Linked DNA regions of Homo sapiens. The protein of the gene in region 2 purifies or fractionates together with the protein of the main gene of each other region. This does not show direct contact. Each region holds a gene or a part of one and is shown on either strand. Other genes may lie near its edges.

Region 1 (3,500 bases), on a different chromosome or scaffold from region 2:
TATAAAACCACCTAGAGAGTAGAGAAATGTAAAATAAAAGCTACCCATGATTCTACCACTAAAGATAAACACTGGTGTCAGTTTGGTATGTTTCTCTAGTTTTAAGCATATAGCAGAGCTATTATTTATATACCTTTGTATTCTGCTTTAATGATGGTCTACACAGAATTTTCAAGAGTTCAATAACAAAAGAAGTCTTAAGAAATGACTTCTTGAACATTCTTGAAATTTGGAAAGTATATCATAAGGACATCTAAAATGTTAATTTTAAAATTTTCTAGTTTTAAGAAAATTTTAAAGCCTATATTAAAATTATTTATCAAAAACTTTTGATCAAGAAGGCTTACAAATTAGTACCTAACAAATGAGATGCAAACAGTAATGGCTAACATTAAGGAAACATTAATCATTTGTATAGTCCCTTGACTTTTCTGTTTTACAATACTGACACCTGATGGAATAATAAAGACATCACCATTATAAATTCTGAACCTAAACGTATTTGGCTTATGAGCAGTATGTATTAAACAGTCCTAATTTATCAAATGTTAAAATAAAATGTATGGTGAACTAGTGTGAATAAAATGAGGCAACAGCAGCAACAACTGAGATAAGGAGTCTTTCATGAATAAGGCATTCCTCAATCATTCTTGCAATTTCTTAAGTGTCTAAATGTCATGAGCAACATGTTAACTCATACACAATAACACATACTTCTTCCTACTATTTTAATCCTAATCCTAGCCAATGAATACAGATTGAAATTTACTACATGCCCTCCCATCCCCCAATTATAACAGCCAAACACCCACATGGGAAGCATATCTTACCACTATTTTTATGAAATCTGTTTTTTTCTTGTGCTGTCTTTGTACTCTTTCCTGTGAATTGCTTTTTCCCTTTAACTTCCATCGTAGCAACTCTGGAAAACCAAAACCAAAACCAAAAACAATCACTGCAGTTCTCTTCATCAAATAAGAGCTGTTTCATAGTCATTGCCACATTTAGTCCTTCAGTCTACAAATACAATACAAATCAGCCAGATATAGAATGGACAAGTACTTAAATCCAGCAATTTTGCAATCACTGACTCAAATTTTAAAACTGAAAATGAACAAGGTATCAATAAAAAAACTAAGAACAACACACACCCTGGCCAGTGTTTGATATCTCTGGAGGCATCACTTCACTTCCACAATAGTACTGGCTAAAAATAGACCACTATTGACACTAAGTATAATAAGCATCAGAGTTTGCATTTTGTAACCTGGGAAGACTAGGGGATGAATAACTGACAAAATTATCGCTTGATTTCTTGGAGCCTAAAAAGCCAGGAACAAACAATAGGCTGCATGTACCACTACATGCATTTAATATAAGAAAATAAAGGATTATCTGAAAGATTCCTATGCAATCCAACACAGCTAAAACAAAGATTAGCATCCAGTGTTTAATCTGTGATTGTTTTAGACGCAGCCAAGCAATTGGCAGTGAACTCCAAAATAAGATGTTGAAATAGTTAATATTTCATTGAAAGGAATCTGTCTAATAGGCGCTTTATAGGCTACTGAGACACCATGGTGCACAGGATAAACAAGTTATAACCCCTCACCTACCCAAGGTCCCTGAAAGCAGCAGAACAGATCAAGAGAAAAAGCCATTTGGCTCATTTCTCCACTTTCCAAAGTTGGACGATCAACTCATTTGAAAGCTGGCTGTAAACAACAGATGTTAGGGATCCCTAGACAACACCAGATATTTCTAGATTAGAATTGCCCATTCAAGAACTAATTTCTCAGGATATTACCATAAGAGAAAAGAAGGGTTCTGGGATAAAATATATTTGGGAAACAGTAAGTTAAATGACAAGAATCAGCCCGTAAGAAAAGGCTTTTCAGATTCTTTAATTTGCTAATATATACAATCAATTCTCAAGCAAAGGCTAAAGGATGCAGGATTTTCCAACTCCAGTTGAACCACTTTTTCCTGGAACATCATAAGGGAACAGCAGACTTCCAAGGAGTACTCTGGAAAGTGCTGTTCTAATCTAGACTTTTCTAATGATTTTGAAAAATGGACAGTCCCTGAATTACTCAGCTTCCTCAGGGCATTTAGAACTGAAGGGTCACATTATTACTTGGCTATGGCCATCATAACCATACCTGCATCTCTCAGCTCTTCTACACCTGTAGTTTTCTAAGAATCCATTCATTTACATGTTTTCTCTGTATGTTTGTTCTAATTTTTATATTGAAATAATTTTAGCTTTACAAAAGAGTTGAAAAGATACACAGTTCACATATACCCTTTCCCCAGCTTCCCCTAATGTTAACATACAGTTAACTAAGCTACAGAGTTGAGTTGGAGTTTACCAGTTTTTCCACTAATATCCTCTTTCTGTACCAGGATACACTGAATCTGGCCATCAAGTCTCCTTTGTATTTTGTAGAATATTCCTCATTTGGGGTTTGCCTGATGTTTTCTCATGATTAGGCTAAGGCTACACATTTTTTGGAAGACTACCAGAGGTCAAGCTTTCTTCTGGTAGTACTCTATCAAGAGGTACATGACATTAACATGACTTATTACTGTTTATGTTAACCGTGTTCACTTGGTCAAAGTAGTGTTTTCCAGGTTTCTCCACTGTGAAGTTGCCACTTTAACCTTTCCATCTTTATTAGATCCAAACCACCAAGTCCAGCCCAAAGTCAGAGGAAAATTAAGCTCCACTTCCCAGAAGGAGGGGTACTAAAGAATCCAGGCATACGTTAAACTACCACAGCAATTAATAAACATTTTAGACAAGATGTTTGGAGAATATGTAGACATCCTATGTCCTCCTAAGTTTTACCTGCTAACTTTAGCATTTGTCGGTGGATATCGCCTGCAGCAATTACTGCATTTAAATGGTGATCTTCTATTTCTCTTATTACTTTTGCCTTTGTTATTCTCAACTTTTCTGTAGGGAAGACTTGTCCCATCTTTTCCATCTATTTACTTGTATCATATAGTCTCAGATATTTATTTCATTCCTTGGTTATAATCCAATACCACTGTTATTTTGTTGCTCAAATAATGCTAGCTCCAGCCAGGGGGAAGTTTCTCAGGTTGCTTCTGTGTCCTTTTGACGCGGCCCAACTGTTTTGTTTTGCTTTTAAAGCACATCCTTATTTCCTGGCACTGGCTCCAGGTTCCTTCTGTATTTTCCTTAACCTAGCCCTGAAATCAGCCACTTCTCCAAGGAATCCTGGTTCCTTTCATTGAGAATGGTATTTAAAAACCAAGATCTGAGTGCTAGGCGCACTTGTTGTCACTGAGGTGTCCCTGTTTCTATGTCCTTTCGGCAGACAGATTCAGGAAACACATATATGTATATTAACTTATGCATATGCACATACCTATATTTATTTTTATATCTATTACAATAACTTGAAGCTCATACTGATGTTTCCAAATCTAATCAAGCACCACATATTTTCCTCCAGGCATCTCCTCTTGCT
Region 2 (3,500 bases):
TGCATGTCTCAGACGCAGAGCACTGCTCCCGTGGCTGGTGCCTCCTCTTACGAGTGTCTATTGGGGTCATATTAGGGGCCAGGCGCTGTGCTGGGCGAGGGGATGGGGGTACAGTAGAGAGCATGGCGGACAGAATCCCCACCTCGTGCAGCTTACATCCCATGCACAGTCACACGGTGTGTGACCATACACAGATATCTCAGGATCTATGTGCTCTGTGAGATAATGAGGGCTGCAGAGAGAAATAGACAGGATAAGTGGGACCAGAAGGCCTGGGGCGGGCAATTGCCATTTTATATCGCATGGCGAGAGAAGGCTTTGGGGGTGGGGGAACTGATGCTGGTCTTGGTCCCACCTGATGTGCTTGGGCATGCCATGGAGGCTCTCTGGGGACCTCAAAGCAATCCAGTCCTTTGGAAGAATGTGTGTCTGCTCTGCAGTAGCCTTGATCCAGCCTCGGGATGACTGTGCCATTGCTTTGGGTCCATGAATGGGTAAAAGGCTGATGTTGAGTGAGTCCCACCCTGTCCAGACTCTTATTCCTGGTTTCACCTGCGGCAAACCGGCCTGCAGGATCTCAGTCTCAGAGGAAAAACTCTTCCCTCACCGACTCCCCCTTGCATTCGTCCAAAAGAAGGCAGGACCCCATTGGCCCCGGGGATTTGGTGCAGGGACTCCATTCACAAGCTGGCAGTCGTCTGGCCAGGCCAGATGCAAGGCCATTTAGCTCCAAGATCCTGACTCCTCCCTGGGCCTAGGCCCAGCGCCAACTGGAGCCTCTGCCTGGAACTGGCCCCATGTGAGTACTCAGAGTTAAATATGACTGATGCTTATTGATGAGTCAGTTTCTTGCCCACTCACTGACTCTGACACTGTGCCTTGTCTTTATCACTCACCCTTGTTCTCTTCGAGCATTTCTCACTTTTCTCCCCAAGATTCAGGTCACTGTGGTGGAGGGTGTTGTGATGTGAGGAACTCACAGCCACTCCTCCCTGGCCCAGAAGAAGGGAGGGTACGCTGTGTGTGTGGGCACTGCAAGGTGAATTGTACTTGACAGGAGTAAGGAAAGGGAGGCTGACAGGGCCTGCAGGAATGAAGTTTCCTTGGGAGACCTGTGTGCCGCCAGCCCCCTTCCCCAGCCTGGTTCAGCCCTGGTCTCCCTGGGCAGCAGTTTGCGTGGGGTGCATCTGGCTCAAGCTGACTTGTTTGTTGTTGTTGTTGTTGTTTGTTTGTTTGTTTTTAAAGTCCCAGCACTTGTTCTGTTTTCCAAGTGAAAAGGAACTATATCTCCACCTTCTTAGAGTTTCTGCTGTTCAGGGTCCTAGGGAATCTCCTGGAACAGTTGTTCTGTTGTGCTGGTTGTGCAGACCTGAGATTCAAGTAAGGAAGCCCTGATGTGGTTGGTGTGAGTAGCTGGGATTACAGGTGCTTGCCACCATGCCTGGCTACTTTTTTGTATTTTTAGTAGAGATGGGGTTTTGCCATGTTGCTCAGGCTGGCCTCGAACTCCTGAGCTCAGGCAGTCCGCCTGTCTTGGCCTCCCAAAGTGCTAGGATTACAGGTGTGAGCCACTGTGCCTGGCCATGTATATTCCTTATTATATACCATTATGCAGTTCCATTCGGAGAAGAGCACAATGAAAACTCCACTACTCTTCCAACTCCTGACTGACGGGAGCCGTTCATGTATTCCTTCTTGGCTATTTCTAGTTTACAAGCACTCAGCTTAACTGGCAACACTCATTATGTTTACTGAGTACCTACTATGGACCTGGTCCTATGCCAGGCTTTGGAGAGTCACCAAGATGATGAAACCTAGACAGGATCTTCACAGTGTAACAGGGAAGATAGACTTGTAAACGGGCAATTGTGACAATGGGATAAGCACTCTGATGCCTAGACGAACTACCGTGGTGATGCAGAGGGACAGTGACCAGCGCAGACAGTTGGGACTTCACAGGGAGAGGATCCTCCCCTTGGGTCTTACAGGACAAATAGAAGTTTACCAGGTGCACAAGGGGAGGGAGGAGCAAGTCCAGAGGCACACAGAGCTGGAATCATCCGATGCTTTGGGGGAGCTGCAAGGAGTTTGGTGTGACTGGGGCTTGGGCTGCTGGAGGGTCAGAGGAGACAGCACTGAGATGGTAGGCAGGGGCCAGGCGGAGGCACGTGGACTTTGTCCAGGGGGCCAGGAGTTCCTGAACCTTGCTTACCATCAGGATTGCCTGGGGGTTTTCATAAATACCGAGCACAGAGCACTATTCCATATCTGCTGAATCTCACGCTTCAGGGAGTGGAGCTGGGAATTCTCTCTCTCTCTCTCTCTCTCTCTCTGATATTTCTGACAACCATCAGATGTGAGAACAGTTGCCATAGGCAGTGAGGGTGCCCTAAACGGTTTTAAGCATGTGGATGATATGGCCCGATTTGCAGAATTAATTGGTGGAGTGGGGGTGAGCATAGAACAGGAAGACTGGGAAAAACCAGTATGGGTCTGAACCAAGGTAGGGACAGTGGGGAAGGATTCTGGAGCAATTTAAGAGGTAGGTCTTCACAGGGCTGGATGGGGCTTAGCAACTGATTGACGTGCAGAGGGGAGGGAAGAGGTTGGGTGATGAGTGGATAGAAGGATAATTCATGACCCAGTATAGGGGACAGAAACAGAAGAGTGGGTTTGCATGGAAGACAGTGAGTTCAGTTTGGAATTCATTGAGCACTTACTATGTATAGTCCAAGAACTGCTCTAAGCATTTATGCGCATCACACCTCATTTATTTATTTATTTATTATTTATTTATTTTTGAGATGGAGTTTCACTCTTGTTGCCCAAGCTGGAGTGCAATGGTGTGATCTCGGCTCACTGCAACCTTCTCCTGCCAGGTTCAAGTGATTCTCCTGTCTCACCCTCCCAAGTAGCTGGGATTACAGGCGCCCGCCACTATGCTGGGCTAATTTTTGTATTTTTAGTAGAGACGGAGTTTCACCATGTTGGCCAGGCTGGTCTCAAACTCCTGACCTCAAGTGACCTGCCCACCTTGGCCTCCCAAAGTGCTGGGATTACAGGTGTGAGCCACCGCACCCAGCCTCACACCTCATTTATTCTTCACAGCAGCCCTTTTGGAGACAGGTCTCAAAGCCAGGCAGTCTGGTCCCAGTATCTGTGCCCTAAGCCAGAGATACTATTTGGCTCCTTAGATGTGAGGTACTTATAACTTCCCAGTAAAAACTGCAGTGGGATGTCTGGATCTGGAGCCTTTGAGATCATCTAGTTACAAATGTCTGTTTGTGAGTCATCCAGCTAGACTTCAACCTCAGCCTGGTGTTTGGATTCTCAGTCTGTCATCTAAGAGCAGCGTGACATTGTCCTTAATTTCGGAGCCCTGGTTTCCTTGTCTGAAAAATGTAACTAATGGCTCCTCCCTCCTGGGTGTTGTGGAAATTGAGAGAGGTGCCATATATCATGTGCCTGCTATTGTTTCCAGCACAGAATGATGCCAGGAT
Region 3 (3,500 bases), about 93 Mb from region 2:
AATAGTTTTTAGATTATATTAACAAAGTGGTATTTGGAAAAAGTAGGCATCTTGAACAGTCTTCCAAACTGATCTACCCCATCCGCCATATATCTCAGTTGTTCCTGGCTCACCAAAGAATTCTAAATCCTTGTTGTCTAGGAATATGAGACAGTAATGAAAGGCTTGGACCGTAATGCTCCCTCGGTGCCTCCTCAGAATACTCCTCAAGAAGCTCAACAAGTAGATATGTGGAAGAAATATATACAGTGGGAAAAGAGCAACCCTCTTCGTACAGAGGATCAGACCCTTATAACAAAAAGAGGTAACATGATTAACCCTCATGGGACTTCAGTTACATGTATGTTAGGCCACTTGGTATCCCCATAGGTTACTAAAATTTTCTTACCCCTAATCTTTTTTTCTTTTGTTCTTCAGATTCAATAATTCCTATAGATCTATCTCCATATTCACTGAACCTTTGTTTTCATCATATGCAGTCTGCAATTAAGCCCATCCAGTGAACGCTTTATTTCAGATACTATATTTTTCAATTCTATAAATTTCCATTTTAGAAATTTTTTATTTTTTATATTTCTTTTTTATGGTGTCCATTTCTTAGTTGAGATTCCTTGTGTGTTCATTACCATCTTTTTCTTTGTTTCTTAGAACATATTTATAATAGTAGTTATAAAGTCCTCATCTGCCAATTCCAACATCTGGGCCTTCAACCACCATGGAGTTTATTTTCTTTGATTGCTTTTTCTCTTGACTGTGGTTTACATTTCCCTATTTCCTGTTTAAATTTTTTCTTTTAGATATTGTACAAATGTACAAATGAAACATTGTAAAGACTGTAGATTCTGTCATCTTCCTCTGAAGAATGTTTTATTTTAGCAGGAAGTTAAATACTACTGTCAGATTACTTGGACTTTGTGGAGGCTTAGTTTTATACTATGAAGACAGGTCTGTTTTAGTTTTACCATTAATCTCAGATTAAATACCTTATTCTTGGGACATAGTCTTTACTCCTAAGACAATGAAAAGTCTAAGGTGTTTACCCCAACCATCTAATTGGATCGGACTCAAATTCTAAACTTCATCTCCCTTAGTTGCTGAGGTATCTATTTAACTCTTTCTGCCTTCCAGCTTTGTTTTCTGCTGGTCTGTTTGTATTCTTCCCTGTGTATGTACATTTTAGGGATCAGCTGAGGATTTGAGAACATTTATGCCCAGATTTTCGGGATCTGGCTTTCTCCTTTTGGGGATGTCTCCTCAATTTCCAGCTGCTCTCATAGGCCAGAACTCCATGTTACTTCAAGACAGTAAGACTGCAGCATTTGACTTGAGTTCTAGCTATCCCAGAAGTGCACAACATGGGCATGCGTTTGAAGGGAAAAGCCATATTTAAATATGGATCTCACCTAGTGTTGTTCTGTCTTTTTAAGGGCTCAGTCTCCTGATTTCTGCTTCTTTTGGTCATTTCCAGTACATTTAGATAGTTGCTTTTGTATTTGTGTTTTGTTTATTTATAATTTTTACTTGCTGAGGGTTGGTCTGATACAAACTACTCTGTCAGTGCCAGACTCTTAATTTGGAGCTTTATTGAATTCCTCAATCTTGCCTTGCTGTTGCCTTGCTATCTTACTTGCAGGTCTTTGCAAATATTGTTTCCTTTGCCCACTCCATTTTTGTATCTACCCCATCCTTACTCCACTTCACTTATTTGCCTCTGACCAGCTTCATCCCTTCTTCAGGTGTTGTGCTAGATGTCAGTTCCTTAGTGAAGCCTTTCTTGAGTCCCTAAACTATGTTAAGTCCTGCTGCTGTAAGTTTTCAGAGTATACTGTACTTTCATCATCATAATCCTTTTGATCTTTGCTTTCTGTCTGTCCTCCCCGTATACTGCAGACTTCTTGAATATAGGAAGTCTTACTCACTGGTATATTCACCGTGCCTTCCACATTCCCTGGCATATAGTTGGTGCTCAATAAGTATTAACTTAGGCTGGGTGCAGTGGCTCACATCTGTAATCCCAGCACTTTGGGAGGCTGAGGCAGGAGGATTGCTTGAGCCCAGGGGTTCAAGACAAGCCTTGGCAACATGGTGAAACCCCGTCTCTAAACAAGATTTTTTTTTTTTTTTTTGAGATGGAGTCTTGCTCTGTTGCCCAGGCTGGAGTGCAGTGGCGTGATCTCCACTCACTGCAAGCTGTGCCTCCCGGGTTCATGCCATTCTCCTGCCTCAGCCTCCAGAGTAGCTGGGGCTACAGGCACCCACCACCATGCCTGGCTAATTTTTTGTATTTCAGTAGAGACAGGGTTTCACCATGTTAGCCAGGATGGTCTCGATCTCCTGACCTTATGATCCGCCTGCCTTGGCCTCCCAGAGTGCTGGGATTACAGATGTGAGCCACCGCACCTGGCCACAAGATTTTTAAAAATAAGCCAGATGTGGTGGCACACGCCTGGTCTCAGCTACTTGGGAGGCTGAGGCAGGAAAACCACTTGAGCCCAGGAGGTCGAGGCTGCAGTGAACCATATTTGTGCCACTGCACTCCAGCCTACGTGACAGAGACCCTGCTTCCAAAAATAAAAAAAATTAATAAGTGATGGATAGATGGAGGGAACTTGGATGGATGATGGTGCCAGAAATCACTAAAGCTTTTTATTTCTAATTATCATTAATTTTTGAGGAGCCTAATTTGGTTATGATATTTACATTGATAGTTTTACAAATAATAATTATTTTAATTGAATATTGTTTGTTAATTTCTTCCCTTAGTTATGTTTGCTTATGAACAGTGCCTGCTTGTGCTGGGCCATCACCCTGATATTTGGTATGAAGCTGCCCAGTATCTTGAGCAGTCAAGTAAACTGCTCGCAGAAAAGGGAGTAAGTGTTCCTTCCCTATCCCCACTTTGATATTTTTGTGGTTTTGATATAGCAATTATTTACTGAAAAATATAACTGAATTTTGGTAATAAAGCATAAGTATTGAAAATTTAAGTTTACGTTCATATGAATCTTAGTGACACTCATATAATTAGACCTCCTTAGAATTAAAATAAACTGGCAGTTTTTTAACGTATCAAAGTAATGAATCATTTAGAGTACTTGCATGGTTATTTTGTAAGTTAAAATAATGAAAGGAGTTTTTGGAATTTTTTTAGAATCCAGAAATGCATATGTGTTTATGTATGTGTGTGTGTGGATACATATATATGTGTGTACATACATGTATGCTTTCTTAGACACATAAATAAAATAAAGTAGATGTAACTTTATTAATTTTATTCTCTCACAACTATATTAAAATTATTGAAGATGAGCTTTCTTTTTTTTCTACCAGGATATGAATAATGCCAAATTATTTAGTGATGAAGCTGCTAATATATATGAAAGAGCCATAAGCACTTTATTGAAGAAGAATATGCTTCTTTATTTTGCATATGCAGATTATGAAGAGGTAAGTAAAAATGTTTAGAGCCTTCTTATAATTCAATTTTTTAGTGCAGGACT
Region 4 (2,788 bases), on a different chromosome or scaffold from region 2:
GGCTGGCCAGCAGAGGGAGACCTGTCTCTACAAAAAATCCAAAAATTAGCTGGGTGCAGTGGTACACGCCTGTGGCCCTAGCTATTCAGGAGGCTGAGGTGGGAGGATTGCTTGCGCCCAAGAGTTAGAAGCTGCTGTGAGTTATGCTCCAGCCACTGCACTCAGCCTTGGTGACAGAGCAAGACCCCGTTTCAAAAAAAAAAAAAGTTCCACATTCATCACAAAACACTCATTTGCATTTTTCTTTTGTCCTTTGAGCCTTATTTATTTATTTTTTTAAAAGACCGGGTCTCACTATATTACCCAGGCTGGCCTGACCTGGGCTCAAACATCATGCCCAGCTACTTTATTTACCCTCAAATACTCTCCTATCTAACTGGCTACTTTTTTTTTCCTGTTTTTTGGGACAGGGTCTCTGTCACCCAGGCTGGAGTACAGTAGTGTGATCTTGGCTCTGCACTCCCATCTCAGCCTCTCAAGTAGCTGGGACTACAGGCGTGCAACACCATGCCTGGCTAACCGCCTACTTTTTATTTCCATAGACTTTATGGCACTAGGCTTTGTAGAAAAATATTAAGGGGTTAGTGTGTGGTGTGCTTTTCGAGAAAATGCTCACGAAGATTAGAAAAACACTGATGGTTTATTGGCAAAATCAATAATCTGTCAGCAGTTGATTCTTTTTTTTCTCTGAATTAGCCCTCTTATGAGTAATCTGTTTGCTCATTCATTATAATTTCATACCTCTAAAACTGCGTGTGACAGCTGTAAAGGTTAATTCCAGTATCATGAAACGTCTCCAAACCAAAGCAGAAGTGCTTCAGGATCCTGATTTGTGTGTTTTTTTCTTCACTCTAGGTTTCCCTTTTATGCTTACTACTCATGCCCCTCACTTGGAAAGTCACTTGGCCTCCTGAACAGCACTAACTCCAAACGTTTTTTTTGTTGTTGTTGTTTTTTTTAGAGATGCAGAGGATGCTATTTATGGAAGAAATGGTTATGATTATGGCCAGTGTCGGCTTCGTGTGGAGTTCCCCAGGACTTATGGAGGTCGGGGTGGGTGGCCCCGTGGTGGGAGGAATGGGCCTCCTACAAGAAGATCTGATTTCCGAGTTCTTGTTTCAGGTATGTTCCTTTCAAACAGAATGAGATGATACATGTAAAATACTTAACACAGAGTCTGTCTTCCAAGAAATGATAGCTGTTATTCTTCAGTGCATGGGACACGGGGGCTTTCTTTTCAATAGCCTGTGTGAAGCCTTGCCCTGGATTGCCAATGAGGAAAGTATCCTGCAAATGAAATTGCGCTGGGAGTGCAGCCTTGGAAGAACATAACCATATTTCTTGTAAAGGAGTTTTCTAGTGGTGAGAAGGAAAGATGATGGGAAAACTTGAGCTACAATTCTAAAGATGCTTCTTTTGGAATATACTTGGCATCAGACATGGTAGAAAGGCATTCAAGGAGCCAGATTTGAACAACTTACCCAGCCTTGGATCCTGAAGAAGATCAGATTTTGTGGTGGTTTTAGAATTAAATATTTTTTAAAACCCCGTAACTTAAGAGTCTTAGAGATTTTATTGGAAAGTATAGACTATTTCTGTCTAGTGTTTATAAGTGATGAAATGCTAAACTGGGAGGTTTATCTATCTTCAAAATATTAACACACTGGAAAGACCTGGGGCCTTCTGCATATTGCATGGGAGTTTTAGGGCCCTGGTGGAATGAAATAAATCGAGGAGCCTGGCACCTTTTTAAGATGTGAATGTCACACAATCACAGCATACTCCCATGTGCTTAAGAGTGATACTCTCAGTATCTGCCTATCTTGTGTCCCTTTGTAATTTTTTAACCCCAGAACTCTATTCCCTCCTTCAGGATGTCATACATTATCTTTTTTTCTCTCCATGCTGCTCTGAAATCCTGCTTAGAAAACTATTAGGAAATGGCTGCAGTCCTGAGCTGTGAGCGGTAAACACAGCCTTTGAGAGCAGGAGCACATTTCCCTTTCATGACATCAGGTAGGGTTGTATGACTCCCGACTAGTTTTAGCATCTGAGTCTTACCTTCCCCCCCACTGTATTGAAGAATGTTGGTGATCTTTTAAGAGGTACTCTGTATAGTTTGTCATTCATACCTACAAGAAAACAAACTTTAGATTTTTTGTTGTTGTGTTGTTACCTTCAGCTACTCTTTGGTTATTTCATGTCTGGTTTCAAAATTCCCATGTCCTGTGAAACCCTGTCAAGCAATAAATAATTGGTACTGTTAAATTTCATAATGGAAAAAATTGGAACTCAAAGTATTAGGAGTTTGGCATTGATTTTAAAGGACAAAGAAAGAGGCTATGAATTCTCAAAGATACTAAACCTGTAATGGGATGGACTTCTTGCTCTGTTGAAAAGGCCTGGTCTCTGGAAGATGAACTTAAAACCAGCTTCTCAAGGTGGTTCATTTACCACACATACTTCAGTGCTCTTTTCTGATTTCATGTCCCTTATCAAGGTTTATGATTTGGGGACCCTCAGGATTTAAGTGATCATGGAGAAAGGACCATAGGTATTGCTGGCTCTTAACAGGGCAGTTAACATAGCTGAAGGATGTGGGCTTTCTTATGTTCTCCATGCCTAGGACTTCCTCCGTCAGGCAGCTGGCAGGACCTGAAGGATCACATGCGAGAAGCTGGGGATGTCTGTTATGCTGATGTGCAGAAGGATGGAGTGGGGATGGTCGAGTATCTCAGAAAAGAAGACATGGAATATGCCCTGCGTAAACTGGATGACACCAAATTCC
Region 5 (3,500 bases), on a different chromosome or scaffold from region 2:
CTGATATGGTCATGTTAGTATGTAAGTAAGCTATCTGGGTGTCTGCCTATTAGAGTGATGTGTGTGTATGTGTACATGTGCATGTTTGTGTATATATACACATATATTAATGTAACTGCAATTACAGTAACAGTCCTTTTCATCAAAAAATACTATGTCAGTGCTTAGATGCATTTCAGGATGCCGTGTAGCTATCTTTTGGATTAATTTATTTATGTCTTAGGATCCATATCTTTTTTTTTTAGTAATGATCCAATTTTGGTTTTGTTTTAGATTTTTGCTACTCAGTTTAAATAGCAGAGTTGGGTAATTGTGGATTTTTTAAAATTGCATGTATATGAAGCACAGTTGTAGATTACTGACCCTTTGTAGTATATACTGGGATTTTCTTTGGAGATTCACAGAAAATCACATTTTGATGTGTTGATGATTTTCTGAGTAAAGGAGTTAGTCTGAATACTGCTGGGATACTTGTATGGTTGGTTCCTAGGGCCAAAATTGAAGAGCCATAAATTTCCATCTTTTAAATATTTTACCTGATGTTCATATAGAAAATATTCATTCTTTAGGATATATTTTAAGCTGATAAATTTTGATTGTGTGATAGAGGTATAGATTTATTACTCCTAATTTAGATTACTTATTTTTGTCTTTTGTATGAGCATGATAAATGTAAAGTGGCATTGTTACATTTGATTTGATTTCTGTGGCACTATATCTGTATCCCTAGTACCTAACAAAATACTTCATACATAATAAATCATATTTAATGCCTATTGAATGGAGATGATGTTGCCACCATTTTCAGGAAAAGCTTTTGTGTACAGATTAAAATTAGATAATCGTCTTTTATGTTCCCATCAATACACCCTAGCTCAAGAGCTACTTATTTTTCAAATCCTGCTTCCTAAACATTGTTAATAACTCTTCACCCTGTCAACTACCTAGTTTTTTTGTTAAGATCCAAAGAAAACCTGCTTATAGTAATATGTGTTTAATTTTTCTGTCACACTTATTTTGATCTATACTGGGATTAATATTATTCCCATTCTTATCCTGCATTGTTAACTTCCCTATCTTTCCATCACCATGTTTATTCCTTGCCTGGGAGGGGTGGAGGGGGCAGTCAGGCAGTGTAACTGTTTGTAGAATTCTTTTTAAGTTCTTCAAATATCTTCTACTAAAATATACTTCAATCAGTATGTTACATGCCAAAAAATATGTTGTTAAAAATTTTATTAGACTATTACCCTAATGTATAGTGTCTCTAAATTAAAATAATAAAGTTATGAGATCCTTTAAGATTGGCATAATCTCCCAGCATTTTGGGAGGCCAAGGTGGGTGGATCATTTGAGGTCAAGAGTTAGAGACCAGCCTGGCCAACATGGTGAAACCCCACCTCTACTAAAAATACAAAAATTAGTTAGGCACTGTGGCAGGCACTTGGTAGCCCCAGCTACTCAGGAGGCTGAAGCAGGAGAATCGCTTGAACCCAGGAGGAGGAGATTACAGTGAGCTGAGATTGTGCCACTGCACTCCAGCCTGGGTGACAGAGCGAGACTCTGTCTCCAAAAAAAAAAAAAAAAAAAAAAAATTGGCATAATCATCAACTAACACATGCCTTCAGTGTTATTAACAGCTTATTATCAGTAATTACAAACATATTTGATTTTGTTGTTTTTTTTTTTAACTCCAGAGTGTCTCAAAATATCTTTGCTTTATGTCTAAGGAAACCATTTTTTCTTCTCTCTCCCCCTACTTCTTTCCAACTAGTATATCATTCTCCATTGTGTGGACTCAGTGCTTTCAAGAAATATCCGTATTATTTGTTATTTGACATCATCCTTTAAACTGAAGAGTAAAGCAGTTTCTGAAAGTAGTCTTCACTGGGAATGTATCTAGCAGCTTTAATAGTCAATAGCGATTAGCCTATATTGCTCACTTGATGAGCTAATGATTGCAGGCCTTACTAGCGACAGTGATCGCACTTCAGTTATCTACTGTTACAGTTACACTACTAAATGCTGATAACTATCATCAGCTGGTTGCCTTTTACTTAGCACTGAACCAGTCTAGTTAGATGGTGTTTAGGATCCTCAGCTTCTGCAAGTCTGAAAGTATTGTTTCTGAGAGTGAATTTATAGCACAGTTTATTAATTCCTAAATGAGGAATTTTCGGTGTTTTCTTTAAAGTAGATTGTAATATTGAATAATATTTAATGATGCAGTGGAAATTTATTTTGTTTCATTTGTACAGTTTTATAAAATACCTTTCTTAAAAACTCAAATTTTCAGTTTCTGTAAAGATTGATATCAGTGATATCTTTAGGAAATGTTTGGAGAAAGTTTATTACAGAAGTTGGCATAATCTGTATCTAGCTCTTGTGACTTTAGAGCAGTATTTTGAAAATTTGTACTCATGATTTCCATTTGTAGAAATTTTCCAAAGTATGCTTAATAGATTGTTCATACAAATATTGCTTAAAAGAAATGCATTAAGTAGAAACCTTTTTATAAAAACTAAAGTTTGCTGGAGGTATTCTCTCTCCTTTCCATTCTGTCTCTTAAGCCAGCCCAAAGACATAGTTTCTATAGGGTTCTTGTGTCTGTAGAAATAGGTATATGATTTAACAGCTAAGGAGCTAGCAAATATTAATTCTGTAAGACCCTGTGCCTATTTATGAAGAAATAATCTTTGACATGCTAAATTCCCTTTTATATTCTAAAAAAAAAAAATTTAATGAAACCCTTCTTTACAAGGGCCTGATGTGAAATTAAGAGTATGAATACCTACTAGTATTACACCACCAATAAAATGGGTTTTTTAATATGGATCTCTCTGTCTTGCCTATAAAAATATTAGCGTTTTCTGGCTGTAATGTATCAATTTTTAAAAATTCTCTTTTAAACTTATTACAAATTATAGTACAAAGAGAACTAATATCAAAACCCTGAATAAGCCTTAACCTTTCAAAGCTTGGTTCATTCGCTTTTAAAATAAAGAAACCAATTTCCCTCCTACTTTATACAGTTATAAAGACAAAAATGAATGTTGTTATAGTAAAAGCTAAAGTATGTCTGATTTTTTTATATAAAGGAAAGTACAGTCATTCAATTTCTAATTGAATTGAATTTATCTAATGAAGAAAGTAATTTTTTAAAATAAATCTTTTTATGTATCTGTACTTTATATTCAGTGTAGATTTAAAGATATTACTGCCACAATTTATTTTTCTCACCGTGTATACATATCAAGGAAAGAATCATTTGATCCCTGCCCCCTACTTTTCTGTAATGAGTAGTAAGTTGTTACTTACATAATGAGTAGTAAATTGTCATTTACATGCAGTATTGAAAATTTTTTTTTGCCCCCACTTACCTCTAATTGAAGTTGAAGATCCATTTGGTGCTTCTGTGTTATATGGGTAGGTTAGTGGAAGAATTGTCACTGAACTATTCCATTATGCCTGCCCAAGTTTTTTTTTTTTTTTTTTTAGGA
Region 6 (4,010 bases), on a different chromosome or scaffold from region 2:
TCTTCCACCTGCACCAACTTTAGATCATCAACATTTAATTTTATTTAAGGAGAAGATGGGTTCTTACCACAAGGAACCCGACAACAACCAGGAACCAAACTATGTTGGTAAAGTATGATAAAATAGACACATCTGAAACAGGGCTTAAAATGTTATGTCAATTTACACCAACTTTTCAGAAATCCAGTGAACTATATAAAAGTGAGATACAGCTTCCCATTTGTTTCTATTTGCTATACATGAATAAATACGGAGAAGTGCTGGTGGGCTCATTCTTGTTATCTGCCTATTACAGTTTATATGAATCAAATCAGGTTATGCTATGGGCCCGCACCTGTTGAGGCCACTTCCTGGCATGGAGGGTGGAGAGTGTCCTCTGCAGAAGAAGAATGCACTTCTGGGACTTCAAGCGTAGGTCATTCATTGTTAGCAAATTCCTGACCCTTGTTACTGAGAAAGTGGTTCCTCAAGTAGGAAACTGAAACTGACTAGGGATTTTCCACCCCCAAGAACTTAGACCATACTAGGTTTCGAGTTTGTTTTTGTTTGTTTGTTTCTTTTTGTTTGTTTGTTTTTGTTTTGTTTTAGATGGAGTCTTGCTCTGTTGCCAGGCTGGAGTGCAGTGGTGCGATCTCACCTCACTGCAACCTCTGCCTCCCTGGTTCAAGCAATTCCCCTGCCTCAGCCTCCTGAGTAGCTGGGACTATAGGCGCACACCACCACGCTCGGCTAATTTTTTTGTGTGTTTTAGTAGAGACAGGGTTTCACCATGTTGCTCAAGGATGGTCTCGATCTCCTCAACTCGTCATCCACCTGCCTCAGCCTCCCAAAGTGCTGGGATTAACAGGCGTGAGCCACCACGCCCGGCCGGTTTTGAGTTTTAATAAGTTTTGGGTCATCTGTGCTGGGGGGTAAGACAAGAGGGGCCACTGGAGCAGCCTGGGGGTGGAGGAAGAGGAGTAGTGGGCTGGGGCCGGTCAAGGATGGAAGCCCAGCAGGAAGACTGAAATCTTTTCTGCTTGGAGGGCTAGAATTGAGTTATTTTATCATCACAAAATTATACTTTGTGCTATTTGTATTTTCATGCTGTTTAAATTTGTATAATTATTTCTTTTTGTTCATTTGGGGTTAACATTAACTACGGAAATTCTGAAACTTGAACACATTAGGGTCACCTGGGCTGCCGGTTAAATACACGCTTCCCACCCACCCCACATTCACTGAACCTGAATCTCTAAAACAGAGCTGGGAAGGTGCCTGGTTAACCTGCTCTCCAGGTGATTCAGATGCAGGTCAGACCTACTTCTAAGGATAATGGAATCTAAAGGAGAAAGAAGCATCCTTAAGGGCCAGATCGATGGTGATGCTGACCTCTGAAGTCAAAGTGGGGAAAACCCTCAAGGAAAAGTGACACCCAAAAGAGAAATGACTAATATCACACAGTTGCCCTTCTGAGCACTCCTTGGTAAAATTAATCCTAGGAAAACATGGTATTTTGTTTTCATAAGGGCCATGAGCCAAGCATATCTCCTGTCCCCCTCCTTCCTTCCTTCTGTGCGCCATTCTTTTTCTGTTTCATTTTTCCTTTTTGGATCCCTGCTTGGGCACTCTAATTGCATGGCCTCAGCCTCAGCCTCCTTGCCTCTCCTCTGGCCCGAATGCTTCTCCAAATCTAGCGACATGAAAGCGGAATTAGGGGTTGACTAGATCCCGATAGGTCATCATCCATAAGATGCCAGTGGAAAAGGTGCCCATTCTGGGAGCTGCAGGTCACTGGCTTCCCATTGCAGACCAGGGAGGCCCTTGAGCCAGCAGATCACCTCTGGGCTCTTGGCCCACCAAGTAGTGGTGGGTCTGTAAGGAGGGAACTTTGCCGACTTTCCCTCCAAAGCTCAAATCTCCCAACCCACAATCACTTCAGAATATCATCCTTGCTCCCAATCTGAGGGCCACTAGAGACTCGGAGAAGAGGCCCCGGCAGGCCCTCGACAATGGGCACCTGTGGTCGATCGACAGCCCCTCCAATGTGGCCGCTGTGACGGCTCTACGTTGACATTCAGGCAGTGTGATTTTAGGTAGCGCCTCTGCCCCTCTCCCAAGTGACCCCGGGACCCCTGGGAATCTCCAAGAACCACAAGGAATCTCTGTGACTTGCCACGTTTCTTAATCAGTTTCCTTCCCCACACAAGAATAATAACAACAGGAAAAGACAGAAAAGGATGATAAGAGGATAGACTCACTTCCACAACAACAACAACAAACAATAACACCACCACAACAGGGAAAGACAGAAAACGATCGAGGGATAAAGAGTTACTTGCGCGGTTCCGCCGCCACCTCCGGGCCGCGCCATTAAGCGCCTGGAAGCGCAGGGCGCCGGGGAACCGCAGCGCCCCGGGTGCGCTCGGAATCCATTCTGCCGCCCCCGCCCCCGCCCCCGCCCCGGCCACCTCCGCTACAGCAGCCGCCGAAGTCGGGCGGGTCACCCTCCCGTGCGTGCCCTGCCGCCATTTCCCTGGAGGGAGGGCAGAGGTGCCCCCTCCTCACCCCACCCCTCGCGCCCCTCACCGTCCTCCGGGTAGAAGAACACCAGGAAGCGGGATGGGCTCCTGGGATCCTGGCGGACCTCACACTCGCCGCCTCCCGACCTCTTCGGGCTCTGGAAGTACATCTGCAACTTGGTGTTCAAGTTCTTCGGGGGGTCGGGGCCCCAGGAGCCCTCGACCAGCAGCGGGAAGGAGCCGGGCACAGCCATCCTCAGCTCCGCTCTCCGCCGGACTGCAGGGGCCGCGCCAACTCCGGGCCGCTAACTTTGACTCTTTCGCTTTCGTTTCCTGGAAAACTCCCAGGCCTTGGTTTCCTTTTGCCTTCAGCCTAACACAGCGGACCCAGGAATGGCAGAGTCATCCCCCGCCCACCTCCCCACCTTCGCATTCGGCCCACAGCCAAGGCCAAAGTAACCCTTTGGGGCTGGCCAGCGGCGCCCCGGGAAGGCGGCCTCAGTTCACCTGTGCTCCACGGGCTCCCACACCCCCTCCTAACTCCGGGCCCCCTACCTGCCGCTCGCCCCAACCGCAGATCAAGTCGGCAGCTTTGGGGCACCAGACCTTGCCCAAACGCAAAGATCATTTAATTTTTGCCGCAAGCCGACCCTTTACAAAAGAATAAAATGACTCACAAACTGTGGCCCCTTTAGAATGTTTGCTGCCTATTTGGGGACTTTTTCAGCAATCATTGTGATTATCAGAATTTTACGTTGCTTTCCCTGTTTTGCTTTCTGTTCCTTGATCTGTTAATACTACATGTCTAGAAATGTGGGGGAAACAATTACACTCACAGTTTTTTTTGTGGAATATTTACTAGGCGCCATGCACTCACTCACTGAACCCTCGCTGAGCTCACGGAGCTATGGTGAACACAGTGGGCAATAGGTGCTCTGGGAAAGAATATACTTGTGTTCCTGGAACAGATGAGGAGTGGCTCCTAGTCCAGCTGTGGCGGCTCAGGGAGGGTTTATAGGGCGGTGACATGTAACCTGATAACCCCAGGATATCAGGGGATAGCCTTGGAGGGTTAGGAAGTGGGGTTCCACGGTGTGATTCACATGTACAGGATCACTCCGGCTGCTGCGTGGTGGCTAGAGTGGAGGCAGAGAGATCAGCCAAGTGGCTACCATAGTGTCCTAAGTGAGAGACAAGGGTGGCTGAGACTGGGGTGCTGGCAGAGAAGAACTGAGAAAACGAGGATTCTCAATTAATAGTGAAAGCAGGACTTGCTGAAGAATGTGAGCCTTGAGAGAAGGAGAAGCTCAAGGATGACTCCATGGTCAGCCATGGATGGCCCGTGCAAGTGGCTGGATAATAGTGGCATCTGCAAGAGGGGAGGCCGAGTGATGGGAGAGAAGCTGGGGCTGTGTGTTTCCTTGACCCCAAATAAAGCAGTGTTGCAAGTCGAGGGGGGCGGGGGGATTATCATTCCAGTGCTACCGATACCTCAGGTCAGAGAAGTGT
Region 7 (3,500 bases), on a different chromosome or scaffold from region 2:
CTCTCCTTGTTTTTTACCAAACTACTTTCATTGTTTGATATCCAACTAAAGAGATTATTCCTAGATGTATTTTTCTCAAACCTTTATTTACTGTAGGCTTGGTTTATCTTTTTTTGTCTCTCTTCTGTGGAGCTATGCATTGTTACTGAACATCAATCATCTCTTGAAGCATGGAGGAAAAGGGAGATAATGTAGCTTTCCTTTTGTTTGTAGAAGTTATATCGTGGTGACAAGGTTTAGCAGCACAGAGCATTTGAGTATTGGATTCTCAATCCTCTAACCCACACGTTAGAATTTCACATACGATGTTGTCCCACTTCCTACCTCTAGCAAGAAACCTCGAATTAAATGTACTCATGACTTTTCTGTCCTTCAGCTCTGATTTGCTGTTTCTTTGCTTACTTTATATTTTTTAGTAGTATGTTCCTTATTGAGATGCTACTTAAAGCTGTTTAACTCATATGTAAATATATGTATTTCATTAAGCCAGATTGTTACTTGTACAAATAAACATAATTTTTACTTATTCTGTTGTTGAATCATAGCTGAGAACAAAAGTAAAGTTACCATAGAATTTAATTATTTTTGTTTCCTTTTTATTTTAGATTTCTATGTTTGAAAAAGGGAAGGTACCTAAGATTGTCAACCTAAGGGAAATACAAGACGACATGCAGACGTTGTATGTAAACACAGCAGCTGATAGTTTTGAATTCAAAGCTCATGTTGAAGGAGATGGTGTAGTGGAAGGGATTATCCGTTATCATCCATTCTTATATGATAGAGAAACTTACCCTGATGATCCATGCTTTCCATCAAGTATGTTAATCTGTTATCTTAGTTATAAAATATGAAGTTGTAATTTAGGACAGTGATTTGTTTTTCTAAATGATTATCGGTTGGGTTATTCAGGTTAGATAAATATTAAATTTTTTCTTATGCAAGTCTTAGATTGTTAGGTATTTGTAATTTTTGTAATTCCTGATTTTTGTGTACATTCATTTCTAGATGAATAAATCTTTAATGAACTCTTCTTTTAGTTCTGTTACGAAACCAAACTTTTAGATATGTATGCGTATTAATCCTTTATATGTTCCCTTGTCTTCTCTTTATCCTTGTTGCAGTTTTACACTTTATGCAGTCATATTTACTAACTTTTTCTTTATGCTTTCTGATTTTGTCTTACTGTAGAAAGGCTTTTTACATCTCAAAATTATATAAATCTGTAGCTTTTTTGTTTTTGTTGTCATTTTATGGTCAATGCATCTGTGTTTTTCTTTTTTGTATGTAGAGCAAGGTGGGGTTTTATTTATTTATTTAAATTTTTGAGTGATGGGGTCTTGCCGTGTTGCCCAGGCTGGTCTTAAGATCCTGGCCTGAAACAATCCTCCTGCCTTGGCCTCCCAAAGTACTAGGATTACAGGTGTGAGCCACCACACCTGGCCCCCACCTTTTTTTCCCCCCCCAGTAGAGAGATAGGGATTTAACAATTATTTTCTATGTGGTATTCATATTCAGTTTCTTAGCACCAGTTATTGAATGTTATAATTTACCCAAGAGTTAGAACTTGTATAATACAAAGTTCCCATAAGTACATAGGTCTAGATTCTTTACTATAAAGTACTATTTTATTTTTTTTTAATATGAGTAATGATACTGTCTTGTAGCTTTATCTTGTAATTTGGTATCTTTGGGAAAAAACATTTTCACTATTGTTCCTTTTTGAGAATACTTTTGCTCTTCTAGATAATTTTGGAATCAGCTTTGTACATTCACTTGAAGTAATTCTAGTGAGATTATTGGGATTGCATTGAATTTATAGGTTAACAATATTAAACTTTTTCATTCAGAATACTTCCTTAGTACATTCTTGGTTTTCTAGGGCCTGCAACCAGAGATCCTGATTCGAATCCCATCTTTGCCACTTTCTGTTGGACAAACTACTCCCTGCCTTAGTTTCCTTACCTGGGAAATGGGTAGTTCACACCTCATAGGGGTGTTGTGAAGATCAAATTTAAAAACTGGGGCAACTTCTCAGAATAGTGCTCAACACTATTTATTAAGTGCTCCTGCCCAGTACATATTGTTACTCAGTGGCTCCACTGGCCTTTTTGGTTTTGTTTTTTATTTTTTGGAGACAAAAGTCTTGCGTTGCCACACACGCTGGAGTGCAGTGACACAATGTAGGCTCACTGCAGTCTCTGCCTCCCAGGTTCAAGCAATTCTCATGGATCAGCCTCCTGAGTAACTGGGACTACAGGTGCCCACCACCATGCCAGGCTAATTTTTTGTATTTTATTAGAGACAAGGTTTTGTCATGTTGCCAAGGGTAGTCTCAAACTTCTGAGCTCAGGTAATCCTCCCACCTCAGCTTCCCAAAGTGCTAGGATTACAGGCGTAAGCCCCTGTGCCTGGCCATCTCTGACCTCTTAAATTTGCTGTTTCCAATTTTTGTGTGCTAATAGACAAAAAGATATAATTTTTTTCAAATGCTGCCTTAAAAAGAAGAGCAAGTAAGTTGAGTGATCAATCAGAGGGATTCTCCTCTAAGAGCAAAGTGATTTTGTTTGATTGAAAGCAGCTTTTATATAAGGGACTTCTTGTGAGGGCTTTTAGGGAGAAGGTTTTGTTTTAGGTGGGTAAACTAATTCCAGGGTAGCTGAGGTGTTAATATGTCAGGATCACATTGTTTAATCCTAATTTATCTGGATACACGAGAGTGTGTTGCTAATAAACATAAGATTATAGACAATTGTGCAAATTAATGCTCTTGATGCATAGTAACATGTCTTACAGTTCTGTGTACATTTTTCATGCTTACTTGAATCTGAAAATAATTTCTAAAAAGTAAACTTAATTTTAGCATCATTCACTAATTTGTTCAAACTAGGTAAACTCGCTGCTATTAGATGTCATAGATTTCTCAGATGACTTTCATGTGAACATACTAGTTCTGATAAAATTGTGAAACTGTTTTAGATACGGGATTTAAGCTCCTATATTTGTAGGAAGGAGGGATTTTGTTATAGGGGATAATCTTTTTGGATGTAAGACTCTTTTAGCCTCATGAATAGGTTTTAAAGATGACAGGCCCAGCAGCTAGTACATTGGTTCATATATAAGTAATTATTGACTTCTAAATGACAGACAGCATTCGTAATGTGGAACCACTTTGTAAACCTACCTTTTTGTGGGCAAACAGTATAAAACTACCTTTAGGTTTTATAGAATGCAATTTGAAACATTTATGTGTTTGTTTCATTATTTCTCACATTTTAGCAATAAACATTTTGTTCCATTTGCCCTTTTGATCTAGAATTAAAAGATGAAGATGATGAAGATGATTGTTTCATACTTGAGAAAGCAGCTAGAGGGAAAAGGCCTATTTTTGAATGTTTTTGGAATGGACGATTAATACCATATACATCAGTTGAAGAGTAAGTTTGATTTTTGCTGAAATTATGTTTTTACAACTTAATTCTTTTACTAACTAACATTTTGTT

What was found.
Region 1: the proteins of DCPS (region 2) and PUM3 purify together in Homo sapiens (affinity purification with mass spectrometry, with the first as the bait; one large-scale study listed by BioGRID). This does not show direct contact.
Region 3: the proteins of DCPS (region 2) and CSTF3 purify together in Homo sapiens (affinity purification with mass spectrometry, with the first as the bait; one large-scale study listed by BioGRID). This does not show direct contact.
Region 4: the proteins of DCPS (region 2) and SRSF9 purify together in Homo sapiens (affinity purification with mass spectrometry, with the first as the bait; one large-scale study listed by BioGRID). This does not show direct contact.
Region 5: the proteins of DCPS (region 2) and NIPBL purify together in Homo sapiens (affinity purification with mass spectrometry, with the first as the bait; one large-scale study listed by BioGRID). This does not show direct contact.
Region 6: the proteins of DCPS (region 2) and PARP14 purify together in Homo sapiens (affinity purification with mass spectrometry, with the first as the bait; one large-scale study listed by BioGRID). This does not show direct contact.
Region 7: the proteins of DCPS (region 2) and SMCHD1 purify together in Homo sapiens (affinity purification with mass spectrometry, with the first as the bait; one large-scale study listed by BioGRID). This does not show direct contact.

The regions. Positions count from the first base shown.
Region 1 is NC_000009.12:2,837,596-2,841,095, forward strand, and holds part of PUM3 (pumilio homolog 3), read right to left. Parts: intron 923-3,500; 5' UTR 913-922; coding exon 831-912; intron 1-830. UniProt on the Homo sapiens protein: Inhibits the poly(ADP-ribosyl)ation activity of PARP1 and the degradation of PARP1 by CASP3 following genotoxic stress. Binds to double-stranded RNA or DNA without sequence specificity. Involved in development of the eye and of primordial germ cells.
Region 2 is NC_000011.10:126,331,560-126,335,059, forward strand, and holds part of DCPS (m7GpppX diphosphatase), read left to right. Parts: intron 1-3,500. UniProt on the Homo sapiens protein: Decapping scavenger enzyme that catalyzes the cleavage of a residual cap structure following the degradation of mRNAs by the 3'->5' exosome-mediated mRNA decay pathway.
Region 3 is NC_000011.10:33,098,981-33,102,480, reverse strand, and holds part of CSTF3 (cleavage stimulation factor subunit 3), read left to right. Parts: intron 1-141; coding exon 142-304; intron 305-2,763; coding exon 2,764-2,873; intron 2,874-3,330; coding exon 3,331-3,447; intron 3,448-3,500. UniProt on the Homo sapiens protein: One of the multiple factors required for polyadenylation and 3'-end cleavage of mammalian pre-mRNAs.
Region 4 is NC_000012.12:120,463,961-120,466,748, reverse strand, and holds part of SRSF9 (serine/arginine-rich splicing factor 9), read left to right. Parts: intron 1-961; coding exon 962-1,122; intron 1,123-2,626; coding exon 2,627-2,788. UniProt on the Homo sapiens protein: Plays a role in constitutive splicing and can modulate the selection of alternative splice sites. Represses the splicing of MAPT/Tau exon 10.
Region 5 is NC_000005.10:36,988,269-36,991,768, forward strand, and holds part of NIPBL (nipped-B-like protein), read left to right. Parts: intron 1-3,500. UniProt on the Homo sapiens protein: Plays an important role in the loading of the cohesin complex on to DNA. Forms a heterodimeric complex (also known as cohesin loading complex) with MAU2/SCC4 which mediates the loading of the cohesin complex onto chromatin.
Region 6 is NC_000003.12:122,679,629-122,683,638, reverse strand, and holds the start of PARP14 (protein mono-ADP-ribosyltransferase PARP14), read right to left. Parts: upstream 2,801-4,010; 5' UTR 2,756-2,800; coding exon 2,569-2,755; intron 1-2,568. UniProt on the Homo sapiens protein: ADP-ribosyltransferase that mediates mono-ADP-ribosylation of glutamate residues on target proteins. In contrast to PARP1 and PARP2, it is not able to mediate poly-ADP-ribosylation.
Region 7 is NC_000018.10:2,697,226-2,700,725, forward strand, and holds part of SMCHD1 (structural maintenance of chromosomes flexible hinge domain-containing protein 1), read left to right. Parts: intron 1-605; coding exon 606-816; intron 817-3,313; coding exon 3,314-3,434; intron 3,435-3,500. UniProt on the Homo sapiens protein: Non-canonical member of the structural maintenance of chromosomes (SMC) protein family that plays a key role in epigenetic silencing by regulating chromatin architecture.